Regions from separate parts of the Homo sapiens genome. Here region 2 is linked to region 1. The links come from fine-mapping of genetic effects on gene expression. A gene starts in region 1. The other region holds a variant in brackets. All regions are shown on one strand. Distances are between the middles of the regions.

Region 1 (10,732 bases):
AACCTCAGGTGATCTGCCCACCTGGGCCTCCCAAAGTGCTGGGATTACAGGCGTGAGCCACCACCCCGACCCCTCCTTCAAGCCTTTCATAAAAGACTCCACATCAGCTGATGTCTGTCCTGGCCACCCAATCTGAAACCATGACCTCCTCCAGGAGCACGCCCCTGCCCCCTGCTGAATCTCCCACTGGGCCATGTGAACGGCCAGATCATTATTTTCTTCTTTGCTTATTGTCTCTCCCCCAACTAGAGCATCAGCTCCTAAAGGGCAGGGAGTTTTTTGTTTTGTTCACTGTTGGGTCTCCTTATGACAGTACCTGGTATGCAGTAAGCATCCAATATTTGCTAAATGAACTGATGACTGACTGAATAAATGATATCCTACGTCTACAACCTGGTCTCCACATGGCCGGGTTTCGGCACATACTGCTTCCCCAGGGTAGGGAGGCAGAGCACATCCACTGACTCAGCAGACAGTAAATGCTCACTTGGTTCTTTTGTTTATCCTTGTTCCAGAAGGGATTTCTGCAAGGTGAAAAGATGCCAGTAAGCTAAGTATATTCAAAAGCAGGGGAGAAGAAAGGGAGCCAGAGACAAGGAAGACCCTGGCTTTTAACTGGCCCTGGTGTGTGCTGGGCTCTGCCAGGGACTGATGAGAGAGGAATCTGTCCTGGATCTAGGATAGCTGGGGAACAGACACTAAATAAATGTGACTGCAGAGATGAGGGCTTCCCAGAGGAGGTGATGTTTGGACAACAGCACATGCATAGGCCCAGAGGAGGGAACGAGTATGGCCGGTTCAAGAAATTTCAGGAGGCGCGGTGGCTCAAGCGTGTAAGCACTTTGGGAGGCCAAGGCGGGTGGATCACAAGGTCAGGAGATCGAGACCATCCTGGCTAACATGGTGAAACCCCGTCTCTACTAAAAATACAAAAAAAATTAGCCAGGCGCGGTGGCGGGCGCCTGTAGTCCCAGCTACTTGGGAGGCTGAGGCAGGAGAATGGCGTGAACCCGGGAGGCGGAGCTTGCAGTGAGCCGAGATTGCGCCACTGCACGCCAGCCTGGGTGACAGAGCAAGACTCTGTCTCAAAAAAAAAAAAAAGAGATTTCAGGAACACGTTCTGGCCTCCCTAAACCACTTAAGTGCTCTGGAGATGGAGAAGTCACCTGAGACACTCATGAGGTTACATCTTGCTTGCTCAGGACTGCAGCCAACATGACTCAGCTGAGGTCAAGGACTTACCTGACCCCAGAATCACTTTCTGTCTCCTTGCATGTAAAGACTCACTCTCTAGCCTTGTTTTGTTTACAAACTTCCCAATACAAGACACACTGGTTGAAATAACAATAAAAATATGCTAGCAGAGGTTAGTCTCAGTAAATATATCTGACAAAGGAATGGTAACTGAACAACAAAAATCACTCTAATGAATTTAAAAATTAAAAAAATTAAATTTGCGCCACAAAAACTGTGGCACAACAGTTGGCCAAAGTGTTCACAACAGGATATCCAAATGGCCAAGGAGCATATAAAAAGAGGCTCAACATCTCCATTCAACAGGCCGCCGCAAGTGAGAGCTACAATGTGATGCCACTTCACATTCAGAATGGCTAACTTGGAAAAGAGTGTACAACGAATGAAACTCTCAAAATTGTCAGCAGGAGTGTAAAATGGTACACCCGCTTTGGAAAAAGCTCTGGCAATTTCTCACAAAACTAAATATACACCTACTATAAGATCCAGCAAAGGCCAGGTATGGTGGCTCATGCCTGTAAACCCAGCACTTTTTGAGAGACCAACACAGGAGGATCACTTGAGTCCAGGAGTTTGATACCAGCCAGAGCAACACAGAGAGGCCCCCAACTCTATGAAACTGAAAAAAATTAGCCCAGGATGGTAGCACGCTGTAATACAAAATTAGCCGGGCGTGGTGGTGCATGCCTGTAATCCCAGCTACTCGGGAGGCTGAGGCAGGAGAATCGCTTGAACCCAGGAGGCAGAGGTTACGGTGAGCCAAGATCGTGCCATTGCACTCCAGCCTGGGCAACAAGAGTGAAACTCCGTCTCAAAAAAAAAAAAACCCATAAAATATATATAATTAGACTGACAAAACAGACTCTTTTTTTCCTTTTTTTTTTTTTTTTTGCTCACTGCAAGCTCTGCCTCCCGGGTTCGCACCATTCTCCTGCCTCAGCCTCCGGAGTAGCTGGGACTACAGGCGCCCGCCACCACGCCCGGCTAATTATTTTTTTGTATTTTTAGTAGAGATGGGGTTTCACCATGTTAGCCAGGATGGTCTCGATCTCCTGACCTCATGATCCGCCTGCCTTGGCCTCCCAAAGTACTGGGATTACAGGCGTGAGTCACCGCGCCCGACCCAAAACAGACTCTTTGTAGCACTAAGATAACAAATTCCAACCTGACTCTGGTATAGCATCGCATGACAGATAACAGGCCCCGAAGGAAATTAACGAATTTTACCCAAAAATATATTATTCGACTTATTTTGGAATGGCCCTGCAATGCCATCTCTTGTGGGGGAAATTTGCATGTGTGGAGAATCCCCCTCCCTTTCTGGGTCTTTTTCTGATTAAGGAGAGATTTGACTAAGAGTCTGACACCTTTTAAAGTCCTAAAAGAGACATTTACCATCTATTCTTTCTGAAGCCTGCTACTTAGAGGCTTCATCTACATAATAAGAACCTTGGCTTCCACACACCCCTCCTTATCTTAACTCGAGTATTTCTTTCTGACATCAACTCTTTTTAGGAAAAGCTTAACTCTTTCAACCACTTGCCAATCAGAAAATCTTTGAATTGGGGGGGTGGGGTGGGGGCGCGAGGTGAGGGTGGCTCACACCTATAATCCCGGCACTTTGGGAGGTCTAGGCAGGTGGATGAGGTCAGGAGTTTGAGACGGATGGATCGCCTGAGCCTGGGCAACATGGTGAAACCCCATCTCTAAAAGAAATACAAAAATATTAGCCGGGTGTGGTGGCCCATTCCAGTGGTCCTAGCTACTTGGGAGGCTGAGATGGGAGGATCAGAGGATATTCTCGGTAAATATATCTGACAAAGGAACGGCTTGAGCCAGGTAGGCAGAGGTTGCAGTGAGCCAAGATGGCGACACTGCACTCCAACCTGGGTGACACAGCGAGACCCTGTTTCAAAAAAAGAAAAAGAAAATATTTGAATACACCTATGAGCTGTAAGCCCCCACCACTTTCTGGATGGCCGAACCAATGTACACCTTACAGGTATTAGGTCTTTGCCTGTAACTTCTGTCTCCCTAAAATGTATAAAACCAAGCTATAACCCGACCACCTCCAGCACATGTTCTCAGGACCTCCTGAGGCTGTGTCCAGGGCCATAGTCACTCATATTTGGCTCAGAATAAGCTCTTCAAATATTTTACAGTTTGGCTTTTTTTGTCAACACAATGGAATAATTACTCAGTGGCGAAAAAGATGCAAAAACAGGGATGAATCTCACAGATAAAATATTGAGCAAAAGAAATTGGACATTAAAAGTACATATTGGACTGGGTGCGGTGGCTCATGCCTGTAATCCCAGTACGATGGGAGGCCAAGGCGGATGGATCACCTGAGGTTGGAAGTTTGAAACCAGCCTGGCCAACATGGCGAAACCCTGTCTCTACTAAAAATACCAAAATTACCCCGGCTTGTTGTTGTAGCCCTGTAGTCCTAGCTCCTCAGGAGGCTGAGGCAGGAGAATCGCTTGAACCCAGGAGGCAGAGGCTGCAGTGAGCCGAGATCAAGCCACTGCACTCCAGCCTGGGCGACAGAGAGAGACTCCGTCTTAAAATAAAATAAAATAGTATATATTGTATGATTATGTTTACATGATGGTCTAGAGAAACCTAATTAGTCAACAACACTAGAAGTCAGGGACAGTGGTTACCTCAAAGGGTAGGGCATTGCTTGGAAGAGGGCCCTAGGGAACCACCAGTGTTCTGTATTTTGATTTGGATGGTGGTCACACGGGTGTGAACATCAAGTTTGCACCGTAATTAGCAAAATATTAAAAGTAACCTGTATGATTCACTGCACAGCTATGGGCAACAGGAGTGCCCCTTCAGGTGAGCAAGAGGGGAGGGTGTGGCTCTAAGGTTGAGCCTTGAGGAGCCTAATTAAGGCGCCTTTCAAAGAAGTCTGAGCCCCAACAGTCCTGTGTGTCTTCAAGCAAGTCCCTGCCCCTTTCTGGGATTCAGCCTCCCCATCTATGGAGTGGATCCAGGGATCCCCAAGGCCTCTTCCCGCATTTACGCCTCTCTTTGGGAGAGGTGGCATTTCACTCCTATCCCAAACAAGGCTTCACAGGACAATTCCTTCCCAGTAGCCAGTAGCCACCCAGGCTGCCAACACGGGTGGGTGCGCACTCCTAGCACCAGTAGCCCCAGGGCTTCAGCTGCGTGAGAACTTATGCATGTCTTTCACTTGTCTTAGCCTCTATTTGCTCATCTGTAAAATGGAGTCAAGCATACCTATTTCTCAGGCTTCTGGTGATAAATCTCAGCGCAGTGATTACTGAGCGCCCTGTGCGCCAGGGCTTTGCTATACACAGGCCGTGCACACAGCAAGTGCTTAATAAATGGTGGCTGCCTTGGGGACGATTAGAATGTCCATACAAAAGATTGTTACGTCTTTTTTAGAAGGCTCCTTGCGGGGGTCCCAAAGTTGCACGTGGGACAAACGCAAGACGGAAAAGTAGCCGGCGCGGCGCGGCGGCGGCCCGTGTTGTTTTGTTTGGGGCTGCGAGAGGAACGCGGCCGGCGCGGCCCCTTTAAGAGGTGACTGGAATGTATCAAAACAAAAAGGCCGCGCGTCCACTGGCTGCGCGCCGCACGTGACCTCACAGCTGATTTCCTGGCCCCCCCCCCACCCTTTTTGTTGCTGCCGCCGCCGCCGAGTGTCACTTTCAGCGCCGCCGCCTGCGGTCTCCCAGGCCGTAACTACCCCACCGCCTGCCGCCTGCGCCCGCGCTCCAGCCCCGCCGCGCGCCTGACCTTTCCCCGCGCGCCCCGGCCCCCGCCGGCGCCGCGCCGCAGCCCCGCGCGCAGATGGCGCACTCGGCTGCCGCCGTGCCGCTGGGCGCGCTGGAGCAGGGCTGCCCCATCCGCGTGGAGCACGACCGCCGGCGCCGCCAGTTCACTGTCCGGCTCAACGGTAAGGCGGCCCCGGCCCGCCCCGACCTTTTGTCTGCGAGCGAGCGGGGCCCGCCGGGGCCGCCCCCTTGCTGGGTGCCTGTCCCCCGCGCGCCCGCGGCCCGGCTCCGGCCCGCCGCCCGGGAAGGCTGTTGCAAGCGCGCGCCGCGGGGTGGTCCCGGGCGGCCGGAGCTCCGGGCGCGGGCCGGGTTGTGCTCGGGGCCAGGTGGGGGCGCGGCCGGCGCTCCGGGAAGTGGAACGGGCTGGGCGGGGGCAGACTTCCCGGGAGAGCAGGGGCCAGGGCGGACAGGGGCCCCTGGAAAGGCAGAGGCAGGAGCTGGGGCAGCGCGGGTCCCCTGTCTCAGCCGCAGGGGACCCGCACCTGCTCAGGCCCACTTGTTCACGACTGTTGGGCACCCACTGAAGGCTCCTGTTTGAGATCCTGGAAAGTTGGTCAGCCGTGACCTGTCCCCTTCTGCGGGTGGTATATGGCTTCCTGCTGCCCCTGGGAATCTTAGTCTTTCTACACGGGGGAGGCCTGCGGACCTGGGGCTGACCGCGAAAGGGGCTTGTGGTCCCCTGGGGGGAGTGAGGGGCGGGGGGATGGCTATCACTATCAAGACTTCAGTGGCTCTGGGACTGGCCATTTGCCTCACTTCTGTGTGCCTTAGTTTCTCCCTCTCTGCAATGGGAATAATACCAGTGCACACCCCATTGGCTAGTTGTAAGGATGAAAGACTGTAACAAATGTAAAGGATCAGACCAGCTCATGGGGGATTAGTAAGTGCTGGTAAACGTGGCCCGATCGTGATTCGTGAAGCCAGAAAGCAAGGGCAAGTTCTCCCTTAGTGTAGAGAAGTTTTTGTTTTTTGAGATGGAGTCTCACTCTGTCGCCCAGGCGACACAATGTTCCTGTGACACAATCTCGGCTCACTGCAACCTCTGCCTCCTGGGTTCAAGTGATTCTCCTGCCTCAGCCTCAGGAGTAGGTGGGATTACAGGCACCCACCACCATGCCCAGCTAATTTTTGTATTAGAGACAGGCTTTCACCATGTTGGCCAGGCTGGTCTTGAACTCCTGACCTCAGGTGATCCACCTGCCATGGCCTCCCAAAGTGCTGGGATTACAGGAGTGAGCCACCACGCCCTGCCAGTGTAGAGAAGTTTTGATTAGCCCATCCCCCCTCAGGAGGTCCCACAGGTAGGAAATAGAACTACAAAAACAAGGGCTATGAACTCCCTGTGGCCCACCTCGCCCCAGTGGGAATGTCCAAGCTGGACCGGTCCTTAGGGGCCACTGTGCCCATTTTCAAGAAGGGAAGGTGGAGGGCCAGGAAAGGGAAAGGCTTGCGAGAGGTCAGGCTGAGAGTTGGGCAGAGCTGGGATGGCGTCCTGACTGGTCTGACTCCCTGAACGGTGGGGCTCCTGCGACCCACATTTGGCTTCAGCCAGGAGGGGCCTCTGCCAGATCTCCGATGCCATTTGGAATGTGCCGAGTGTCGAGCCAGGCCCCACTACAGCTTCGTGGATGGGACTGTCACAATACCCTGACAATGTTGTGACATACCACCCCGTGTTACAGATGAGGAAACTGAGGCTAGGGACCTTAGGAAGTGATTGCCCAGCATCACCCAGAACTTCACCATTGGCCCAACCAACCCTACACCACCAGGCAGAGGCAAGTCCTGCTACTGCTGTGGTGCTGGCAGGGCTCAGCTGGCCAGGACACTCGGGGCCCTGGCGACTCTGGGAGAGAGGCCTCATGGCTTTCAAATCCTCTCTTCTGAGGTTCCAGAGCGGCCTCTGGTTCCCTTGTGGGCTCGGGAGGGCCATTATACTCAGAGACAGAAAGAAGAGGGGATACGTTTGTTTTTTTTTTTTTTTTTTCTTTTTCTTTCTCTTCCAAGTGGGTACAGCCAAAGGACAGCCCTCCAGAGCTGGCCGTGGTCAGGGCTGGACATGCCCAGCCGTATTTCTAAACTTACCCCCTTCTGGAATTCACTGCCCAGATAGCTGACCACAGATGTGGCTGGGCATCTCCCCAGCCAAGCCCAGGGGAGAAAGAAGAGAGAGGCCAGAGGCCCCCAAGGGAGTGGCTGTGCAGCACAGGGTGGGGCTCTTCTGGGCTTCCAGGCCCCACTGGGTTTGGGTGTGTGTCTTGGGACCAGAGAGGGGTCGTCTGAGTCTGAGCCCAGGCCTCCCTGAGCTGAGGAGGACAACAGGCTGTGGTGTCATTCCCGACCTGTAAGGCAAGCCTGGAGGCTGGTGCTGTTGTGCCCACTGAGAGATATAAACACTGAGGCTGAGGGGTCAGGTAGCCCCAGGCTCCTGGTGCAGAAGTGTTCCTAGGCTGTCCACATAGCACAGCTAGGCTGATTCTCTTCCTGCGAGCTCTGGTTCTGAGTGAGGGAAAACGTTTGAGCACCTTTGTTTATTAAGCATTTACAGTGTTCTAGGAGGCCCTGGGCACCTGGAGTCACTTTATTTCATAGCCACACACCACAGGGAGAGGGGAAACTGCATTTCCCATATACAGATGGGGAGACTGAGGCATGGGGAAGTGAAATGACTTGCCCAAAGTCTTGCACCACAGAGGTGGAAGAGCTGTGATTCACCCCGCAAGTATTTGTTGAGCACCTACCATGTACCAAGCACTCTTTTAGGTGTCGGGGTCTCCTGGGGCTGACAGTTTAGAGAGGGAAATGGACAAGAAATAGAGTCAGTTTTAAAGTATCCTGGAAAACAAGGGCTTTCATGAGAGGTGCAGGGGGCAGAGGGGAGGCTGTGTTGGGCAGGGCTGCTATTTACAATCATGTGTCTAGGAAGGCCCCTCCCTGGAGGGTGGCATTTAAGTGAAGACCTGAAGGAGGCAAGAAACAGAGCTGCAACAGGGAAGAGTGTTCCAAGTGGAGGGAATAGCAAGAGCAAAGGCTCTGCAGTGCCTGCGATGCCTTGTGTGTGCAGGATGGGTCAAGAGGTCATGGGGAGCAGGTGGTGCAGGGCCTGGAAGCCGTTGTCCTATGGGCTCGGCTTTGACTCTGAGGCTCCCAGGAGGGTCCTGAGCAGAAGACAGATGGGATGCCCCAGCTCCCTCTAGCTGCTGCTCTAAGGGGAGCAAACTGTGGGGACCAGGACAGAGCAGGGAGGTGGTTACTTTACTAGTCCAGGCACTGCAAACAGGCGTGGGAGAAACGTCTAGATCCTGGACAGATGTGGAAGGAAGCATGGCTGTGACTTGCTTGTGGGTGATGAGGGAAGGCTTGAGCTCAGGCTTGTCTGATGCCATATCCTGGTTCTGAAATGCAAGCTTGTCATTACTTTATAGATGGGGAAACCAAGGCGCACAGCCTGTAGGCAGCTAAGCCAGAATCAAGCCCCCGGCCTCCATCTGAGGACGGTTTCTGAAGGTTGGAGGCAGCTGGAAGAGACCCCCACCTCCTGGGCAGCCCCTTCCTTAGCCTTCCCTTTCCCTCACAGGCAGGGCTGAGTGTCCCACTTGCTGCAAGGAAAGGAACACTTGAGGGGTGCAGAACCCTGGAACTTTCTGCGTCCTCCCTAACCCCCATTTTGCAGCCAGGAAGACTGAGGCCCCAGAGAGTCAGCTGCTGCCCCTGGCCTCCCTCAGCACCCCTGGATGCAGTGGAGCTAAGATCACAGCCCCAGGCTTTGGGAGGTGCTCAGATCACAGCCCCAATATGAGGCCGCTGGCTGTGTTGGGCTGGGCTGGACCAGGGTCCTCTGGGGAGGGGAGGGACGTATGGTTGAGCTTCTCCAGGCTCACAGCTCCCTCTGCCTAATCTACCAATGAACCACCAACATGTGGCACCTCCCTGATCCAGGCTCTACTTACAGAGGTGCCAGAAAAGCCGGCCAGGGTGTCTGCTTGTCCTTGTCCCGTGCCACAGCTCTGGCGCCTGGGCTCTGCCTCCGTCTACCTCAGTCTCCTCATCTGTATATTCGCGTTTTGATCTGCCAGCTCTCCTTGCGGGGTCAGTGTGGGCCGAGTGGAGAAAGCAGAGGTCAATGTCTTCTGCAGACTCCACATCTCCCAGAGGTCCTGCCCCTGTCCCCTGTCTGCAAGCTTTGGTCTTTCTCTGTGATCGCCTCCCCTGACAATTTCCTGGCCCCCTTTGGTCCCGAGGTTCAGGAGGGGCAGAGAGAGCATGGGGGTGCAGAGACCCAGGGACGGGTCCCCCACGAGCAGTGTAGCTTTAACTTTTCCCAAACCAGTCACGTGATGCTGGTGGGGTTCTCAGGCCCAGGAGGGAGGAGGGTGGTAGTGATCATCCAGGGACAGGTGAGGTCTCTGGGGCAGAGGGGTGTCAGGACTGGCATAAGATCACCTGGCAGAGTTGAGACTGGAACTGAGGGCCCTGCCCTGCCCTAGGCTTGCTCCTGTGGCTCCCAAGTGACAAGTCTTGCCCCCCTGTGCTAGTCTGAGGTCTGGAGTTCTCAAGGCAGCTCTTAGAGCTGCCCAGATAAGGGCCTGGGCCAGGCCCAGAGGCTATGCCTATGTCACTGTGAGCCGAGACAGCAGGATCCACAGTGCCCAGAAGTGAAAGCGTGGCTGACAGTGCTACCCTGGTGTCCTGCTGTCCCATCATGGGGGCTGCGGGTGGTCAGGGGAGGCTTCTGGGCACGTGACCTTTGGGCTCACCTGAAATGAGAAGGAAGGGTCCCCGGAGGCCCTGGGCAGAAAGGTGACAGGCAGGGGAGCAGCCACCAAGGCAGGGAGGCCAGAGAGGCAGCTGGACCCCAGGCATGTTTAGAAAGCCATGTCCACGGTCCTGCCGAGGGTCAGGTCAGATGAGAAAAGGTGAGGAGGAGCCAAGGACCTTGGTCAAGCTTTGGGGACTTGGGCATTTTCCTGGGATGTCCAGGCAGGTTTGGGGCAGGACAAGGAGTTGAGCGTGAGGACCGGTATTGCATTTGTGGCCTGTGTCATGGGTGTAACACTTGTGACTGGGTGGCCTTTGAAGGCCCTCCAAGGTGGGGTTCAGGTCCTGGCCAGATGCTCCGAGGTTGCTGCCCAGGAGCCTGGCTCCTCGCTGGCCCAGTGCCATGTGGTCTGGCCCATGTAGGGTGTCCATTTAAACTCGGTCTTTTCCTCACATACAGCCCCACCACCACCGTGGCCACCCCAGATGCCCTCTGTTCCCCTTTCAGCCTGAAGACCCTCCTTTGACTCAGCCCTATCCCCAGTCAACTCCATACACCTCCGTGACTCTCATTCCAGGTGAGCCCAAACGTCACCTGCCCAGAGGCCTCCCCTGACTGCCCGCAGCACCCATGACGGGACAGCAGGACACCAGGGTAGCACTGTCAGCCACGCTTTCACTTCTGGGCACTGTGGATCCTGCTGTCTCGGCTCACAGTGACACAGGCATAGCCTCTAGGCCTGGTCCAGGCCATAGGCCCTTATCTGGGCTAGGCTCTAAGAGCTGCCTTGAGAGCTCCAGACCTCAGACTAGCACAGGGGGGCAGGACTTGTCACTTGGGAGCCACAGGAGCAAGCTTAGGGCAGGGCAGGGCCCTCAGTTCCAGTCTCAACTCTGCCAGGTGATCTTAC
Region 2 (10,732 bases), 37 kb after region 1:
TTCTTCAGCATTAAGACTTCAGACTTCCATCACAGCACAGGGAGCTCCAGTGACAGAGCCTCTATGGCCTTTTAGGAGCCAACCTTAAAAGTCATTCAGCATCACTTCCTCTACACCCTGCTGACTGAAGCAGTTATAGGCCCACTCAGATTCCCTGGGAGGGGACTTAGGCACCACCCTGAAGGAAGGAATGCCGAGGAGTTTGCTGCCATGCTTTTAAACCACCACAGGGGTGCTGGGGGAGAGTCTTCGCATATGGAAAAGGTGGGACAGGGGAGGCTGAGAGAGAGCGAGCGAGCAGAAGAAAGTGAACAGGTGAGAGACAGAGTGTGGCCACTGTGGTAAGTCCTGGGATTTTGGAGAAAAAGCCGTGCTATGTGTGATGTCACCATTCTCATCCATCTCCCTGGGCAACTTCCACCAAGTCCACACCATTTGTCACTGCTTCCAGCCTTGGATTTCTTTTTATCTCAATGATGTGACATATAGGACCAGCCTCTGAGGTGCCTGCCAGGTAAAGGCTACCTCCATGAGGGTGGGGCAGGGCCAGTCCAGAGAGGCCTGGGGATGCCCAGATGGCAGTGTGGAGCCCTGAAATGAAGTAATGATGACTGGAACTTCGATTCACTGCACACACACACTGCCTCACTGTATGCTGAGGCTGAGGCTTCACTTTATTTTTTGAGACAGGGTCTCACTCTGTCACCCAGGCTGGAGTGCAGTGGTGCAGTCATAGCTCACTGCATCCTCCAGTTCCTGGGCTCAAGTGATCCTCCCACCTTGGCCTCCCAAAGTGCTGGGATTATAGGTGTGAGCCACCTCCCCGGACCCGAAGAATTTTTTTAATCCTACGTGTTATGGGCTGAGTTGTGTGCCCCTGCCCCTCACCCTCACTTCAATTCAAATAACACAATCTTAACCTCCCAGTACTTCAGAATGGACTGCATTTGGACTTTTATTAAAGAGAAAATTAAGTTAAAATGAGGCCATGAGAGTGGGTCTTAACCCAATCTGACAAGTATCCATCTAAGAAGAGCAGATTAGGGCTGGGCATGTTAGCTCATGCCTATAATCCCAGCACCTTGAGGGGCCAAGGTAGGTGGATCACCTGAGGTCAGTTGTTCAAAACCAGCTTGGCATTTAGAACGAGGAAACATTTTAGAATGAGGAAAGGTAGGAAAGGATACACACCAACCTTTCAATATTGTTAGGATCACAGCAGTGCAGGGTGGCTTGTGGAATTATTAACTCTTATGACATGTCACTGAAGAACAAGATCCTGTAAGTGAAATTGCATATCTGGGGGAAAACATTGAAGCTGCACATTAATGGATGGAATGAGAAATACAATCTCCAGTAACAGAAATTTTAAATGTACTGTTAATGAATTTTTTTTTTTTTTCAGACGGAGTCTCGCTCTGTCCCCCAGGCTGGAGTGCAGTGGCGCAATCTCTGCTCACTGCAGGCTCCACCCCCCGGGTTTACGCCATTCTCCTGCCTCAGCCTCCAGAGTAGCCGGGACTACAGGCGCCTGCCACCTCGCCCGGCTCATTTTTTGTATTTTTAGTAGAGACAGGGTTTCACCATGTTAGCCAGGATGGTCTTGATCTCCTGACCTCGTGATCCGCCCGCCTCAGCCTCCCAAAGTGCTGGGATTACAGGCATGAGCCACCACGCCCGGCCTGAATTTTTTTAAAGTAAATAAACTCTGACTTTTTTCCTTAGTAAATACAAATTATTAAGGCCACCTTTTAAAAAGAGCATCATATTCAAAACGTTCCATTTCACTCATGAGAAATTCAAATTTTACAGAAAACAAGATGTCATTTTTTAAAGAAACCTTTTTAAGGATAATTTTAGATGTACAGAGAAGTCGCAAAAATAGTACAGTTCTGTATAGCCTTCATCCTGGTTCCCCTGACATTAACATCTCACATAGTCATGGTATGTGTCAAAACTAAGAACCAACATTGGCAGTTACTATTAACTGAACTCAAGACCCCATTCAGATTTCACCTGTTTTTTGTTTTTTTTTTCCTTTCTTGAGACAGAGTCTCACTCCATCACCCAGGCTGGAGTGCAGTGGCATGATCTTGGCTCACTGCAACCTCCGCCTCCCAGGTTCAAGCGATTCTCCTGACTCAGCTTCCCGAGTAGCTGAGATTACAGGCTTGCACCACCATGCCCAGCTAACTTTTTTTGGTATTTTTAGTAGAGACGGGGTTTCACTATATTGGCCAGGCTGGTCTCGAACTCCTGACCTTGTGATCCGCCTGCCTCGGCCTCCCAAAGTGCTGGGATTATAGGCATGAGCCACCACACCCAGCCCAGATTTCACCTGTTTTTCCACAAATGTCCTCTGCTACCATATTGCATTTAGCGAGATACCACTTTTAAATTTGCAAAAAGAAAACACTTGCTAACAGACCATGCTGGCACAGCTGTGGGGAAATAGGCAGTGTCATGTACTGCTGGAGGGAGTGGGGTGTAGTCTGGCAATATTTATCAAAACAACAAGTGCCTACACTCTGACCCAGCAAGTTCTCGTCAGGAAATTATCCCAGTTTTATTTGCAATGGGTACCAGGAAGTGGCGCAAACATGTTTACTGCAGCACTCCTTGAAATAGTAAAAGACTGTCCAGAGACTGGCTGATACAATTATGGCATATCCAAACAATGGATTATCATGTACTGCTAAAACAAATCAGATATATACTGATACAGAGTGATCTCCAAGATACAATTAAGTGGAAAAAACAAAAACAAACAAGAAATGGAGGAATGTGCATAATATGCATCCTCTGGGCCAAAGAAAACATTTGTTAATATATGTCTACTTTATATCTGCAGAGGATCCATAACAAAGGTACCAGTTATTGCCTGCAGAGGGTTGTGGACAGAGATGGAAAGAGCCAGGTCACAAGAAGATGAGCAAAAAAACCCCCTTATTTTTCACTGTATATTGTTTTGTAATTTGAATTTTATACCATGTGAATATACTGCCCATTCAGACTTAAAATTCTACTTTTAAAATGCTCATTTTGATGCTTTTAATGGTAAATTCAAACCTTTATGTAGAACTATTATACCTAAGATATTGTTTTGGAAGATTTGCCTTTCCCTGAATGCTACTACATGCTATGAGGAATAAAAATAGGCTGAGTTTTTACTCCTCAAAACAGCCCTGCAAGATAGGCGCTGTGTGAATGGCATCTATTTTCTCCCCTACACCTGCCTTTCTATACTCTCCATGGTCAGGGCTGGAAGCCAAACAACTACATTTCCCAGACTCCCTTGTCATCTGACTCAGCCAGTGGGAGGCACTGGTGGGAGTTTGGAAGATATGAGATGGGGAAAGCAATTCTAATCTCTGGCTTCTGGTGGCACCCCAGGCCACAGCGGTGGTTCCAGTTGTGTGTCAGTAGTACCAGGCAGCAAGTGTGGCTCCAGGCTCCTGCTCAGCAGCTGAGGAATCAGTCTCTGGAAACGAATTTTCCTGTTGCTCCTCTAGCCTTGTGGGGGTCAGGCTTTGGGTGCCCTTGTTCTCCCCTTGTTTCTCATGCCCTTCCAACACCTTTGTAAACAATACCCTGTATTAAATGGTTTTTCCTCTAATTACACACTGGCTAATACAGATAAAATTACTCATATTTTACAGGTGAGAAACTGAAATTCAAATAGAGAAAGTGACTTAACCAAAGGCAAGCTAAGTACCACGCTTGTCTCATGATGCTCCAGCCACCTTGGTCCTAACCTTATTGGACCACCCCAGGCCCATCTGCACTGCAAAGCCATTGCATTAATTCGCTCTGCACAGAACATTCTGTCTTCAGTCCTTCGCATGCACACTCTTTCAAGTCCCACTCAAATGTTACCTTTTGATACAGTCGGGTTTTCGTTTTTAAGAGACAGGGTCTCACTCTGTCCCTCAGGCTGGAGTGTAGTAATACAAACATAGCTCACTGCAGTCTCAAACTCCTGGGCTCAAGAGATCCTCTCACCTCAGCCTCTCCAGTAGCTAGGACTACAGGCACGTGCCACCATACTTAGTTAATGTTTAAATTTTTTGTAGAGTCAAGGTCTCCCCATGTTGCCCAGGCTGGCCTCAAACTCCTGGACTCAAGCTGTCCTCCTTCCTCAGCCTCCTAAAGTGCTGGGGTTACAGGTGTGAGCCATTGTGCCCAGCCTTCAAATGTTACCTTTTTAGAGTGACCTCTTACCACCTGTGATCTCCAAGTCACTCCATTATATCATCCTGTTCCTTTTCTTCTTGGTACTCCTCTCTGAAAATATTTACTTAAGTTGTTTATCCCATTGGAATGTAAAGCCCGTTAAGACCCAGGAACAGTGTTTGTCTTACTAAACACCGTATCTCTGTGCCCAAGAGTACCTGCAGAGTATGCCTTCAACGATTTAAGAATGAATGAATGAAAAGTGTAGTAAGAGAAGTAGCAGATTACTTTGAGCACCAGCGAGGACATGCCTTTCCACTGGCTGCCTTCATACAGCAGGACAGAGGGCTCACGGGAGTCTCCACCGCAGGACAGCCCCCAGGAACTAATTCCCACCACTCAGGCTGTGCCCTCCAAAGGTGCTCAGCTAATACATACTGAGTCAATCAGGCTGCCTATGAACCTTCCAGACAACCTCCGTGCATTAACAGTAATCAGGAGGAAACACCGTGAGGATCTTAGACCAAGTTGGCAGATTAGAAGCAGACGGTCATTCAGAAGTTAAGGGGAGAGTAAAAAGCTGGAGAAATGGGATGTTCATTAGGGCCACAGTTGTTTCAGCATTTACATTTACTCTATGCACTAGACCTACCTCCAGTGCTTCTGGAGAGGCACAATGGCAGAGTGTAATCTCTGTAACTGGACAGTCTGGGCTCAAATCCTAGCACTTTCCTGGCTGGCAGTGTGAGCAAGTCACTCAGGTCGTCTGTAAGTTGATTTCCTCATTTACAAAATGAGATTGTTGATTAAAAAAAAAAGTGATACTATTATTAAGACAGAGTCTTGCTCTGTCATCCATTCTGGAGTGCAGTCGTGCGATCTCAGCTCACTGTAACCTCCACCTCCCGGGTTCAAATGATTCTCATGCCTCAGCCTCCCGAGTAGCTGGGATTACAGGCGTGTGCCACGATGCCCGGCTAATTTTTGTATTTTTAGTACAGACGAGGTGTCACCATGCTGGCCAGGCCGGTCTTGAACTCCTGACCTCAGGTGATCCACCCGCCTTGGCCTCCCAAAGTGCTGGGATTACAGGCGTGAGCTAACGCACCTGGCCAACAGTATCACTTTTATACAGTTGTTGTGAAAATCAAGATGTAGATCACTTAAAATATAAAACAGCACTTGGCCTCCATACACGTATCACCTCATGAAATACCGCAATCCTCTGAGGGGAGATACTATCATCCCATGATACAAACCAGGCAGCTGAGAAACAGAAGTTACACAAGCAGCCCCTGAGCCAGAAGTGCGTTCTAGAATCCCTAGTATACCCTCTGAATCACCACACTGATACAAAGAAAAGACAGCCATATCCGCAGTGTCATACCATGGAACTGTTAAGAGGTCTCCAGCATGAACTACGCTGACACTTGGAGGCAGGGCTGTATGACTCAACAGGAAGGCCAGGTACTTTTTAGAGACCAGACAGGTACAAGGTCTTGAAGGACAAAAGTTGGCTGGGAGAGCTGGGCACCGTGGCTCATGCCTGTAAATCCCAGCACTTTGGGAGGCTGAGGGGGATGGATCATGAGGTCAGGAGTTGGACACCAGCCTGACCAACATGGTGAAACCCCGTCTCTACTAAAAATACAAAAATTAGCTGGGTGTGGTGGCACCACCTGTAATCCCAGGTACTCAGGAGGCTGAGGTAGGAGAATTGCTTGAACCTGGGAGGCGGAGGTTGCAGTGAGCCAAGATCGCACCACTGCACTCAAGCCTGGGCGACAGAGCAAGACT[C/G]TGTCTCAAAAAAAAAAAAAAAAGTTGGCTGGGAGGTAAAAGCATTTTAGGTAAAGCATAGAACATCTACGTATCTGCAAACCCTCTGAATTTACTAGCCTGGCAAGTTCCAGACGGGAAAGGTAGGCAGTTGAATTTGGAGAGCTAGGCAACTTCCAAACTAAGGAGGGGCTTCTTGATTGTGCTAAGGAATTTGAATCACACACTGTAGGTGATGAGGGACGGTGAGAGGATTGCAAGCAGCTAAAACTGTGGTAGAATGTCAGCTGGAAGGAAATCGAAAGGAATCCTCAACAAGGAGAGGGTCGCCTTTCCGTCTGCTGGCCCTCCTGCTGTGGCCTGCGGCGGGGTGGGAAGGGGGGTTCCACTACACAGAAGTGTGACGCGCAGGGCTGGGCTTCTTCTAGGCTGAATTCGGGACAGATTTTCGCATTTGTTTTGCTCAAGTATTTATGGGACCAATTAATATGTTTAGCAACGTTGTCTGTGGGAGCAGTAGAGGAACTGAGAAGTTCACAAACTGTAAGAGATCCTCCAAAGAGTCCACAGGTCTGAGGCAGCAGCACCTGGGAATCTCTGGGCTCCAGTTAGTCCTTCCTGACTTTGACTCGTTACAGCAGTGTCCAGACAGGGATATGTCGGGTCCTGTGGCAGGGTTCCCGTCAGGTGGGATGGTTTAGCCCCGCATCTGCCTTCAAAGATCCCGAGATTATGCCGTCGCAGCGGCCAGGGCAGGAGTGGGTGCGTGGCAGGGACTGAGTCTAAGAGGCCTGGAGGCCCTGTCTAAAACAGAGCTGTCGCTGGGCCCTCTCGCCTTCAAGCAGTTATCATACAGCTATTCCCCTTTCTTGTTTTCAGACCCTCTCCTCTAACAGCCTGCACCTGCAAGCAGGGACCTCCGTGGCAGCAGGGACAGCGTGTCTGTCTCGGCCTCCAAAGTACCCCGGAGTCTAAGAGAACTGGGGGAGGATGGTGCGGGAGCAGCGCCCGCCTCCAAGGAGGGCCCGGGCGGCGCCTCCCGCCCCTCGGTGACCTTATGGGCCAAGGCTGTGAAGGGCAGGCGTGGCGACGCGGAGGGGCCCGGCGCTAGTAGCCCGCAGACAGCGCGGCGGCCCCCAGCGGGAGAGGCAGCCTGGCGGCCAGGACAGCGCGGCCGGGCGCCTCCGCGCAGTGCTCTGGGAGTTGTAGGCACTTGCCTCTCCTCTCTCCTTCAGCTACTGGCTCTCGAAACTCAAGGACCTACCGGTGGGTGGGCGCCTGTGACTCCCAGGCTGCGAACGCCGGGAACTCAGTTTCTTCAGAAATGCTCGAACCAGGACGGCTCCTGGAGTCCTCGCGCCCTCGCAGAAGGACTACGGGCCCCGGCGACCCCGGGGGCGGGGCTTCCGGCGCGCTGCCTTGTGGGCACGGTAGTTCCGCCGGGTCTGGCTTCCGCCTGCCGAGCGGCCCCGGACCGCAGGCCGGACTACACTTCCCGTCGGCCCGCCTGCTCTCCCGATGCCGCCTTGGCGCGAGACGTTGGCAAGCAGAGTGTCTCCAAGATGGCCGCTTGGGGAAGGAGGCGTCTTGGCCCGGGCAGCAGTGGCGGCAGCGCCCGAGAGAGGTGAGATCCAAGGGCTTGTTGCCCCCAGTGCAGGCGGCTCAGCGGCCGGAGAGCCCAGCGCGGCCTCCGAGGGCTGCAGCAGCCTTCCTTCCCTGGTTTCCCCGCGCTCCCCCTACCCTCGCCGGGCATACTGGGTTCCAGTTCCGGAGGATCCGGGATCCGGGTGGGAGCGAGGTCGAAGGCCTCGGCGGAGAGCTTAGGGGAAGGGGCGTTAGCCGGGCTGAGTAAGGTAGGCAGCGGCCATGCGGGGCGGGGCCCGAGGCCGGGCCGTGCTGAAAGGAACTGGCGCCCAGCGCAGGCCTCAGGGACCCGCCTAGCTGCCCGCGGGCCGATCGGCTGCTGAAGCACCCTTCCCGCCTGGGCACGCGCGTGGCCATCTCGGCCGCGGCCCCAGACGTGTAGAGGAAGGCAGGGCCCCCGGAGAGAGAAAGAAGGGGAAGCCTTCACAGAGCAGGCCGGCCGCGGCAGGGGTAGTTTGATCTGCACGTTTACTAGGGAGCTTTAGCTCCCGCCAGATGTGTCTCTTCCGAGCCCAGAGCCGGCCACTTCCTCGAGGGAAGATTCTGAAGACTTTTGGATGGTTCTGTGCAAGCGCTCCTGCCGTAGAAGTCCTTTAAAGTGACCTTTCCTAATGAATGGTGTGTGGGCAGGGAGCTAGGAGCGTGTTTCTTCCAACAGGGACCTCCATTTGAATAACTGATTTCTAGAAGATGAGATTGGAGTAGTTTCCGTGTTTCATGTTCAAGTTGCAGTTTTTGCATCTGGGAAGCAGTTTCAGCTAGTGGAAACCACTAGAAGCTGTTCAGCCACTAGAAATTTGGGAGAAGATGTATTGGTGGAGCCACCTGGATTAACTGTCCGCTAAAGCTTGATTGTTATAGCAGCGGTCAGCAAAAAAGGAAAAGTTTTTGTTTTGCTGGTTCTCCCCCTCCCCGTCTTTTTGGTGAGGATTGTCTAACAGAAAAGTTATCTTCCTCTCAACTACTCTGCATTATTCCTTTTCTGTGACTGATTCCATCCCGTGTTCATTGCTATTGCTTGCAGATGGCTTTCCCAGCTGGGAAGATTCTTCCTGTTTGGCAGTTGTGATAGAATCCTTTAGCTTGCTTGCACTTTATTCTTTAGCCCAGTTATCCAGCGTTGCCCATTCTGCATTTCCTCTTCCTTGGAAAAGCAGTGGTAAACACACTTTTGTTTTTCTAACTCCCGCCTGGTATTAGATTGGACCATTTAAATAAGTTACCTCAATGGTTTTCAGATGCTCTTAAAAACTAGCAAACATTTTCAAGATATTCAATGCAAACAGTAATACGAAATAACCTGTTTAGAAAACAAAGTATTAGAAACATACGCCCTCTTGTTGGACTAAAAGCATCTGAAAAGAGCCGAATAGGGATGCCTCAGGCAGGGAACAGGAGCCTTGCCAGCACAGGTTAAGCTTTTATTGATCTAAGAAAATAGATGCTGAGAATTGTTTTTGTTTTGGCTTGAGACAACTGTTTATTCAAAATGGATCTGCAAATTAGCAGTGCATAGGCTGGATCCAGTCCTTGACTGTTGAACCTCAACAGTTTTTAAGAGAATTTAAATTAGTTGCCAGCAGATTTCATATAAAACGCTCCCTGAAAAGCTGGGTAGTGGCTGACTCTTTTTGGTCGGGACAAGTGCTTGGTTCCAGTTCTTGGTTCCTCACCTGACAGCTTGACTCAAATCACCTGACAGCTTGACTCAAATCACCTGTCAGCTTGACTCAATGCATTTGCCTGCTTGGTCTCTGTAGGTGTTCAGGTTGCACCTTTGGCCTGGAACTGAAGGCTCTACTCACACACGCAGATGTTGTGTGTCAGCAGGAATGTGGCATTTGGTTTTGTAGTTTGGATGTCACCATCTACTCTCCTAGATAACGTGGTATGGGTGGAGACTACCTGTCTGTTTGCTCTTGCTGTAAACCCCTAGCCAGGTTCTGTTGGAAGAGTCATTTCCCCGAGCCCAGCTTCCCTAAGCTCTTCCCATGCTGAGCAGGGGATGGAAACATAACCCGCTGTGGGGCTAGCGAGCTGACTTCTGGGCATCCCTCCATTCCTGCTCAGTTGGTGATGACTGTTCAGGTGGGGCAGGGCGGATTAGCTGATGGCCCAGCACTCTAGATTATGAGATCTGAGTGTATTATTGGCTCTTATGACTGAAGTAGGCTGTTTATGGCTCTCTAAAATGACTTTGTTCCATGTCACATTCGTGCTGACTCAAATCTCAGCTCCATGTTATACGAGTGCTCTCTCCCGTTGCTGCTCACACCTGGTTAGCATCTGCTTTTGCTGAAGCTGAGGGAAACATTATCTGGTTTGGGGAAGGGGCTAGAACAGAGTGACACTTTGGGCACACTTGCCAGATTTGCCAGCGGCTACCAACTCTGAAGCATGCATTGTACTTAAAGGTCCCACCCAGTGCCAGACTGCCTGCAGTATTACTGCCGGCGCTGTGTGTTGGATGGTCCAGTTTAGCACGTGTAGCGTGTGGGTTCTTGCTTTACCTTGTTGAGTCTAGAACCACAGCTCTAGAATTAGTGCTGAATTAACACAGCAGTTCAGTAGTCACCAGCTACATGTGGCAATTACATTTAAATTCATTAAAATTAAGTAAAATGAAGAATTCAGCTCCTCAGTCTCACTAGCCACATTTCAAGTGCTCAATAGCCACTTCCGGCCTGTGGCTACCATATTGGACAGCATAGGTGGAGGACATTTCCATCACTGCAGAAAGTTATGATATGGACAGTGCTGGTTTCGACTAAGATAGGAGGGGTGGAAATAGCAAAATGGTAGTGCTTGCATGTTGATTTTTCTCTCCACTCCATTAAATCTAGGGAACCAACAGTGTTTGTAATGAAGAACATCAGACTCTGAGCTGTAACCTGAATTCTTGTCCAAAATTCAGCACACTGGCAACGAGCACATCAAACAGATTGCCACTTGTCCTGTCGGCGTCTTTGAGACACACTTGCCCATCTAGGAAAGCACAGTGCAGGTATCTGTGTTCTGCCACCGTGTGCCAGCCCGGACCAGCTCACAGACAGCCCTGCCTGTCTTACTTGGGCTGCTCGGCTTCACTGTCTCAGGGCCCCTGAACCTCCCAGAGCCCTCCGTGATTGTTGGAATGTGA

The links.
Region 2: its variant is fine-mapped to the expression of NATD1 in whole blood (TOPMed, PIP above 0.99).

What each region holds. Positions count from the first base shown.
Region 1 is chr17:21,247,612-21,258,343 of GRCh38, reverse strand. It overlaps NATD1 (N-acetyltransferase domain containing 1), which reads left to right and starts at 4,934. Exons shown (of 3, transcript NM_152914.3): 1 at 4,934-5,185. The coding sequence starts at 5,080. RefSeq lists silencers at 4,933-5,042, 5,193-5,312 and an enhancer at 8,803-9,304.
Region 2 is chr17:21,210,932-21,221,663 of GRCh38, reverse strand. TMEM11 (transmembrane protein 11) reads left to right here and starts at 7,503. Exons shown (of 2, transcript NM_003876.3): 1 at 7,503-7,573. The coding sequence starts at 7,512. TMEM11-DT (TMEM11 divergent transcript) reads right to left here and starts at 7,339. Exons shown (of 2, transcript NR_184102.1): 1 at 7,214-7,339; 2 at 931-1,299. RefSeq lists enhancers at 6,522-6,731, 7,502-7,601 and silencers at 6,892-7,161, 7,282-7,421. The variant C/G (reference allele first, on the strand shown) is at 5,971.